Regions from separate parts of the Homo sapiens genome. Here regions 2 and 3 are each linked to region 1. The links come from fine-mapping of genetic effects on gene expression. A gene starts in region 1. Each other region holds a variant in brackets. All regions are shown on one strand. Distances are between the middles of the regions. Region 1 holds the start of ART3 (ADP-ribosyltransferase 3 (inactive)). Region 2 has its middle 15 kb from the start of CXCL11. Region 3 has its middle 6.9 kb from the start of CXCL11.

The links. PIP is the estimated chance that this variant, and not a neighbour inherited with it, causes the effect. A credible set is the group of variants that fine-mapping cannot tell apart.
Region 2: its variant is the best candidate, but not a certain one, in a credible set for the expression of ART3 in sun-exposed skin (GTEx, PIP 0.58).
Region 3: its variant is the best candidate, but not a certain one, in a credible set for the expression of ART3 in pituitary (GTEx, PIP 0.67).

The regions. Positions count from the first base shown.
Region 1 is chr4:76,073,532-76,076,292 of GRCh38, forward strand. ART3 (ADP-ribosyltransferase 3 (inactive)) reads left to right here and starts at 1,178. Exons shown (of 12, transcript NM_001130016.3): 1 at 1,178-1,288; 2 at 2,350-2,427. The coding sequence starts at 2,359.
Region 2 is chr4:76,050,010-76,052,770 of GRCh38, forward strand. It overlaps a transcript of ART3 not described here. Among named protein-coding and RNA genes, the nearest start is that of CXCL11, 15 kb to the left of the region's middle. The variant G/A (reference allele first, on the strand shown) is at 1,590.
Region 3 is chr4:76,041,604-76,044,364 of GRCh38, forward strand. It overlaps a transcript of ART3 not described here. Among named protein-coding and RNA genes, the nearest start is that of CXCL11, 6.9 kb to the left of the region's middle. The variant G/A (reference allele first, on the strand shown) is at 1,416.

The sequences.
Region 1 (2,761 bases):
ATGATAATTTAAAATGTTTTCTTGAAGTAATATATGTGTGTACAAAAAAAACACATATCATAAGTATATAGCTCACTGAATTTTCACAAACTGAATTTGTCAATGTAATTGGCATCCATAGCAAAAAGCAGAACCCAGCTAACATCTCAGATGCTCCTCTGTGCCCTTTCCAGTTACTAGCTACTACCCAGGGTGACCACTATTCTGACTTCTCATGCCTTGGAAGTGTTTTGCCTAATTTTGTTCTTGATATAAATTAAATCATACAGTATAAACATGCTTGTATCTCTTTTTTTACTCAAAATTTTGTTTGTGAGATTTATCCACATTGTTATATATGGTCAGAGTTTGTTCGTTTTCATTGCTATATAAAATTTCACTTACAGTCTAACCATTCTACTGTTGATGGATATTTGGTTTCCAGTTTGGGGGTTATTATGAATAGTGCTACTATCAACATTCTATTAATGTATTTTGGTGTATGTATGCGTGAATTTCTTTGGACATTTTTGTGTTTTTTAAATCCACAGTCAGTGAACCCTAAGTGTTCCTCAGCATTGCAGTCAGTATATTTACCATGTATGCGTTACTCAAATGACAGCTGTAGTTGCAGGCATTACCAAATCCTTCCCTCCTTAATGTTATCACTGGACTTTGTCTATACTTGGGATTCTTAACATGTTGTATTTTGGTTAAGTATGCGTATTCATGTTTTTTATTAGATTTTGAGTGCTTTTTAGTACTTTGTTTTACTTGCTTATGTATCCCGACTCCTGACGAGGTACCTGAAATATAGTAAGCTAGTTGAGCGAATGGTGATAGCTGTCACCATTGCCAGTGATTAACAGAGCAAGTTTCCCTAGTTATGTGAATCACTTAGCCTAGAGTAAAATCCATGCTTTAGTTTGATATCTCAGTGTCAAAGGATTAGGAATGGGAAGTCATTTCTCTCTGAGAGAAGCCCAGAACTGTGGGCTCAGAACTGAATGTGCTGTGTGGCTAAAGGGAATTGCTATGGCTTTACAAGCCTCTTGGAGATTTAAAGTGTTAACAGCAGTGATTCCAAGGCATAGTGTGGGGGGGCCAGATATAAATAGCAGAACACAAGTAGCGTAGTGTGCCACTGCCAAGCTACTGCTGGGGGTGTTTATAAAAAGAAAAGCATTCCTGTCTCAGCTCTCACTGTCAACAACATCCCATCCTGAAGACTTGCTTACCACAACTGAGAGTGGGGAGTCAGTTTGAGGCCTAGCATCACTTAAACTTCCTCCAAAGGCACAAAAGCCAGGTAAACCTTTTGACTTATTTACACTCAGACTAAAGAAATGAACAATTTTTAGGAAAATCCTGATCAAAGCTTGCTTAAAACATATTGCCTTGTGACAGATATCTATCATCTTATATTCAAATCTTTTTTGGAAAGAGAAGTTTAACACAAAGTAGCATGTTGGTACTATATTTTAGTATTTTTAGTAAAAACAAAACAAAACTGCTTCTGAAGAAATATGGGAAACTGAGGCCAAAATGATCTATAAAAGGGAAGACTTCTCCCTTCCCCTGTGCTGTTCATTCTCATTTTTAGAATCCAGAATATGGTGATTGGTAGGGTAAAATAGAAGCTTCATTTGAGTTACATTATCATAAATACTGGGATGAATATTAGGCATTCGGCCAATAGTTGTATAATCTTAGAATTGCTGCCTACCCAGTTCCTTCTTATTCTTGTTCCCGCCTTCAGAAAGTTATGTAAGACACTTATTTTACCCTCGGGCTTCTCTTGATTGTATTTGGGGGAAGGGGGCCATCTCTGACAATCCACTGCTTTGTACCACTACTGACCTCATCATCTCCTCTGTCCCACTCAAAAGGGCATGACAATGTGCAAAGAGGATAGAAGAATGGATAATGTGCATGGACATATTCCTGGGGAATTCTTAGAAACTGGGAGCTAGGGGACCAATTTGAGACTGCTGTTTTTTAGTCTGATTGTGTTATTTCCTGTGCACGCTGAGGGGAGATTTAGAGATGGGAAGAAAATATGACTCCCAGTGACTGTGGTGGGAGAGATGACATGTCTGGAGGAGTATGGAAATGCACAGATTTAATCTTGAGCAAATCACTGAAATTCTAAGGTGTTTTTGTTTCCTCGTCTGTAGAATGAGAGCATTAGACCACTAGATAAAGCCTAATGGCTCTTGTAGCCCGTTAGGAATTTATTGATAATCACTTCCTGACCATCATGCTATCCACTCACATTCTAAATGAAAAAATACGCAGTGTCATCCTATTCTACTTCCCTACACCTCTTTTTTGAGTCTACTGAATTGAAATTTCTTTATTTTAATTTAGAAGAGAAAAATGAAGACGGGACATTTTGAAATAGTCACCATGCTGCTGGCAACCATGATTCTAGTGGACATTTTCCAGGTAATGTTGGGAATGGGAAGCATGTGGTCATTGGAATGGAAATTCGTTTTTTTTTTTTTTTGAGACGGAGTCTCTCTCTGTCGCCCAGACTGCTGGAGTGCAGTGGCTCGATTTCGGCTCACTGCAAGCTCCGCCTCCCAGGTTCATGCCATTTTCCTGCCTCAGCCTCCCCAGTAGCTAGGACTACAGGCGCCTGCCACCACGCCTGGCTAATTTTTTGTATTTTTGGTAGAGACGGGTTTTCACCATGTTAGCCAGGATGGTCTCGATCTCCTGACCTCATGATCCGCCCACCTCGACCTCCCAAAGTGCTGGGATTACAGGCGTGAGCCAC
Region 2 (2,761 bases), 24 kb before region 1:
GGCGCGTCTGGAGTTGTTCGTTCCTCCCGGTGGGCTTATGGTCTCACTGGCTCAGGAGTGAAGCTGCAGACTTTCGCGGTGAGTGTTACAGCTCATAAAAGCAGTGTGGACCCAAAGAGTGAGCAGCAGCAAGATTTATTGCAAAGAGTGAAAGAACAAAGCTTCCACAGTGTGGAAGGGGACCTGAGCGGGTTGCCACTGCTGGCTCGGGCAGCCTGCTTTTATTCTCTTATCTGGCCCCACCCACGTCCTGCTAATTGGTAGAGCTGAGTGGTCTGTTTTGACAGGGCGCTGATAGGTGGGTTTACAATCCCTGAGCTAGACACAAAGGTTCTCCACATCCCCACCAGATTAGCTAGATACAGAGTGTCGACACAAAGGTTCTCCAGGGCCCCACCAGAATAGCTAGATACGGAGTGTCAATTGGTGCATTCACAAACCCTGAGCTAGACACAGGGTGCTGATTGGTGTATTTACAAACCTTGAGCTAGATACAGAGGGCCGATTGGTGTATTTGCAATCCCTGAGCTAGACATAAAAGTTCTCCATGTTCCCACCAGACTCAGGAGCCCAGCTGGCTTCACGCAGTGGATCCCGCACCAGGGCTGCAGGTGGAGCTGCCTGCCAGTCCCGGTGCTGTGTGCCCGCACTCCTCAGCCCTTGGGTGGTCGATGGGACTGGGCACCGTGGAGCAGGGGGTGGCACTTGTCGCGGAGGCTCGGGCCACACAGGAGCCCATGGAGGGGGTGGGAGGCTCAGGCATGGCGGGCTGCAGGTCCTGAGCCCTGCCCCGCAGGAAGGCAGCTAAGGCCCGATGAGAAATGGAGCGCAGTGCCAGTGGGCTGGCACTGCTGGGGGACCCAGTACACCCTCCGCAGCTGCTAGCCCGGGTGCTAAGCCCCTCATTGCCTGGGGCCGGCAGGGCCGGCGGGCTGCTCCGAGTGCGGGGCCCGCCAAGCCCACGCCTACCCGGAACTCCAGCTGGCCTGCAAGCCCACGCGCAGCCCTGGTTCCCGCTGGCGCCTGTCCCTCCACACCTCCCTGCAAGCTGAGGGAGCCGGCTCCGGCCTTGGCCAGCCCAGAAAGGGGCTCCCACAGTGCAGCAGTGGGCTGAAGGGCTCCTCAAGTGCCGCCAAAGTGGGAGCCCAGGCAGAGGAGGTGCCGAGAGCAAGCGAGGGCTGTGAGGACTGCCAGCACACTGTCACCTCTCAAAAGTACAGTAGTATAGTACCTGATGCTGTTTTTTAGAGGGATTTAGGCATGCCAATGACTTTAGGGAGCTGCCGGTGGATTTTTTTTTAAGAGTTCTTAGTAGAATACTACTGTGAGTTTCTTATAATATTATTAAAATACCCGTCCCAGAAATGAGACAGATTCTGCAGGCTATATTCAAGGTAGCCATTAGGCACTGGGTAAGGCTCTATTTTTTTCATCAAAACTTGGAGTAAATTGTATAAATAACATTAAAATCATTAAGACGTTGAGGAATAATGCATGTTTTAATGCCATTGAAAAGAGTTCCAAAGTGATGATGAATTTTTTGTTTGTTTGTTTTAGACCTGCTCTATCGCCCAGGCTGGAGTGCAATG[G/A]CGTGATCTCGGCTGACCGCAGTATCTGCCTCCCGGGCACAAACCATCTTCCCACCTCAGCCTCCTGAGTAGCTGGGACTATGGGCACACACGTCCACAGCCAGCTAATGTTTTTGTATTTTTGGTAGAGTTGGGGTTTCGCCATGTTGCCCAGGCTGGTCTCGAATTCCTGTGCCCAAGTGGTCTTCCCACCTCAACCTCCCAAAGTGCTGGGATTACTGGCATAAGCCACTGTACCTGGCTGACAATGAATTTTAAATAAGGATGTTTCTGAGTTTATGTTGTATCTCTCTCTCTCTCTTTTTTTTTTTTTTTTTTTTTTGAGACAGAGTTTCGCTCTTGCTGCCCAGGCTGGAGTGGAGTGCAATGGCGCAATCTCAGCTCACTGCAACCTCCGCCCCTGAGTTCAAGCCTTTCTCCAGCCTCAGCCTGCCGAGTAGCCTGGATTACGGTCGCCTGCCACCATGCCCAGCTAATTTTTTTTGTATTTTTATTAGAGACGGGGTTTCGCCATGCTCACGCCTGTAATCCCAGCACTTTGGGAGGCTGAGGTGGGCAGATCACCTGAAGTCAGGATTTTGAGACCTGCCTGGTCAATATGCTTTATCTCTTTCTGGGACTTTGACATAAGAAGAGATTTCCAAAGGTTGTATTCTGCTAATGTAGTCTGGTATTTGAGAATGAGATATATCAATGCTCACATTTTATAAGGATGACTTCATCCTTGATATGTGCTACCCCAAACATTGCAGTCGCAAGTGCATGCACAGAATAAGGGCCAGTTTTCAGTGACTACCGTATCACCATACGGAACTTCTCATGCTTGAGAGAGCCACTGGTAGCCATCTACCTTTCCTTTCCTTGTCAGTATAAATTTGGGGGATACAAATATAATTTTGTTACATGGATATATTGCATAGTGGTGAAATTAGGGCTTTTAGTGTATCCATCACCAGAATAATGTACATGGTACCCATTAAGTAGTTTCTCATCATCCACCGCCCCCAACCCTTCCAAGTCTCCACTGTCTATCATTCCATACTCTATGTCTATGTGTACACATTATTTAGCTCCCACTTGTAAGTGAGAACATGCGTGTACCCAATTTCTTTTTTCCTTCTTTTTTTTTTTTTTAAGACAGAGTCTTGCTCTGTCATCCAGGCTGGAGTGCA
Region 3 (2,761 bases), 32 kb before region 1:
TAAGCATGAAAATATATTATTTCAATGTGTAATCAATGTGGATATAAAAATGTTAAATGAAATATTTTACCTTTTATTACTAAGTCTTCAAATTGAACTAGCTACATTTCAAATGCTTGATAATAACATGTGTTTAGTGGCTACCATATTGGACAGTGAAGGTCTAGTTATTCATTTGGCATGTATTATATACTGACTCCATACTTATTTTAAACTAAAGCTGAGGTTGGAGAGGCAGATAGATAACTGTCAAACTCCTGTAAATTTCCCTAGTTGTTTTCTTCTTTCTCTAAGTCATTATATCTCATTGCTCTTTTTCTTTGATTAAATGCAAAAAAGATCAGATACATTCTCTGTGTTCTTAGCAGTGTTGGCCTTTTTTATTGTTTCCAGAATTGGACTACTTTATTTTATTTTCCCAGGTTCACCCACTTAAATAAGTTTTGCTTTTAATTTAAAGACATAGGAGCATCCCAGGAAATGATGGAATCTAGTTTCCATAAGTAATCACCTTTTCAGCTTAAAAAATCTGTAATCTGTGCTTCATCTGAAATTTTATTAATGCTGCTAAGTTAGCCAATTAATGTAGAATTTTAAAATGTTTCCAAGTTAAAAGAGATTAATGTAAGCTATTTAAAAATAATTTCCAACTCACCATTCACCAGGTCTCTGAATAATATATTGCCTGACAAAAGAAAAAAGGTAGTATCAAGGATATTTTATTCAGTTAAGTTAGTGAAAAGTGGGTTAGAAATGAAAACTAATGTTTCCATTTATTATAAATAAGTATGACTTAAAAGAATCCTGTTTTGAGTGTTAGAAGACAGATGACTCACTCCTAGGGAAGAGGTTGCCAGGCATGTAATAGACACCTGAAATAATATAGATAGACTGAACAGATTAATGTAGAATCCTAAACTCTTAAAAGTGTGTCCAGAATTGGTGGGTTCTTGGTCTCGCTGACTTCAAGAATGAAGCCACGGACCCTCGCGGTGAGTGTTACAGCTCTTAAGGTGGCGCGTCTGGAGTTTGTTCCTTCTGATGTTCGGATGTGTTCGGAGTTTGTTCCTTCTGGTGGGTTCGTGGTCTCGCTGGCTCAGGAGTGAAGCTGCAGACTTTCGCGGTGAGTGTTACAGCTCATAAAAGCAGTGTGGACCCAAAGAGTGAGCAGCAGCAAGATTTATTGCAAAGAGTGAAAGAACAAAGCTTCCACAGTGTGGAAGGGGACCTGAGCGGGTTGCCACTGCTGGCTCGGGCAGCCTGCTTTTATTCTCTTATCTGGCCCCACCCACGTCCTGCTGATTGGTAGAGCCGAGTGGTCTGTTTTGACAGGGCGTGATTGGTGCGTTTACAATCCCTGAGCTAGACACAAAGGTTCTCCACATCCCCACCAGATTAGCTAGATACAGAGTGTC[G/A]ACACAGAGGTTCTCCGGGGCCCCACCAGAATAGCTAGATACAGAGTGTCGATTGGTGCATTCACAAACCCTGAGCTAGACACAGGGTGCTGACTGGTGTATTTACAAACCTTGAGCTAGATACAGAGGGCTGATTGGTGTATTTACAATCCCTGAGCTAGACATAAAGGTTCTCCACGTCCCCACCAGACTCAGGAGCCCAGCTGGCTTCACGCAGTGGATCCCGCACCAGGGCTGCAGGTGGAGCTGCCTGCCAGTCCCGGTGCTGTGTGCCCACACTCCTCAGCCCTTGGGTGGTCAATGGGACTGGGCACCGTGGAGCAGGGGGTGGCACTCGTCAGGGAGGCTCGGGCCACACAGGAGCCCATGGAGGGGGTGGGAGGCTCAGGCATGGCGGGCTGCAGGTCCCGAGCCCTGCCCTGTAGGAAGGCAGCTAAGGCCCGATGAGAAATCGAGTGCAGTGCCAGCCCACTGGGGGACCCAGTACACCCTCCGCAGCTGCTGGCCTGGGTGCTAAGCCCCTCATTGCCCGGGGCCGGCAGGGCTGGCCAGCTGTTCCGAGTGCGGGGCCCACCAAGCCCACGCCCACCCAGAACTCCAGCTGGCCCACAAGCGCTGTGCGCAGCCCTGGTTCCCACTGGCGCCTGTCCCTCCACACCTCCCTGCAAGCTGAGCGAGCCAGCTCCGGCCTTGGCCAGCCCAGAAAGGGGCTCCCACAGTGCAGCAGTGGGCTGAAGGGCTCCTCAAGTGCCGCCAAAGTGGAAGCCCAGGCAGAGGAGGTACCAAGAGCAAGCGAGGGCTGTGAGGACTGCCAGCACACTGTCACCTCTCAATCCCACCTCTAAACAGGACACCCCAACTGCTGTTGGGAATTTGGCCGATGACCACTCTAGCTACTTCCTGCTGGATAGGGGTGAAGAAGGGGCCCTGCAGTTGTAGTGTCCTTCAGAGGGGAACTCTCTAGGCCAGGGGAAGTGCCAGCGGGTTGGTCCAGGGGTCCTTGGTAGAAGTTGTTAGTTGAACTCATTTGGGGTTCCATTTGTAAGACCATCTGTAGCTTGATGGCCTCGATTCTAGAGGAAACAAATTTGACAGGAAGGTTAAAAATACAGGGCCCAAAAGCGAGTAACAGCAAGATGGCTGCCATGGGACCTAGAAAGGGGAGAAGCCATGTTGCCCAACTCCAGAGATTGGTATAAGAATTTGAAAGGCGTTGTCTGATTTCAGAAGCCTTTTCCTGTAAACGCCGGGCGGCATCTCATACTATCCCCGACTGGTTAGTGTGAAAACCACATTCTTCCCCTAAGAAGGTGCAGAGTCCTCCTTTCTCAGCAGTGAGGAGGTCT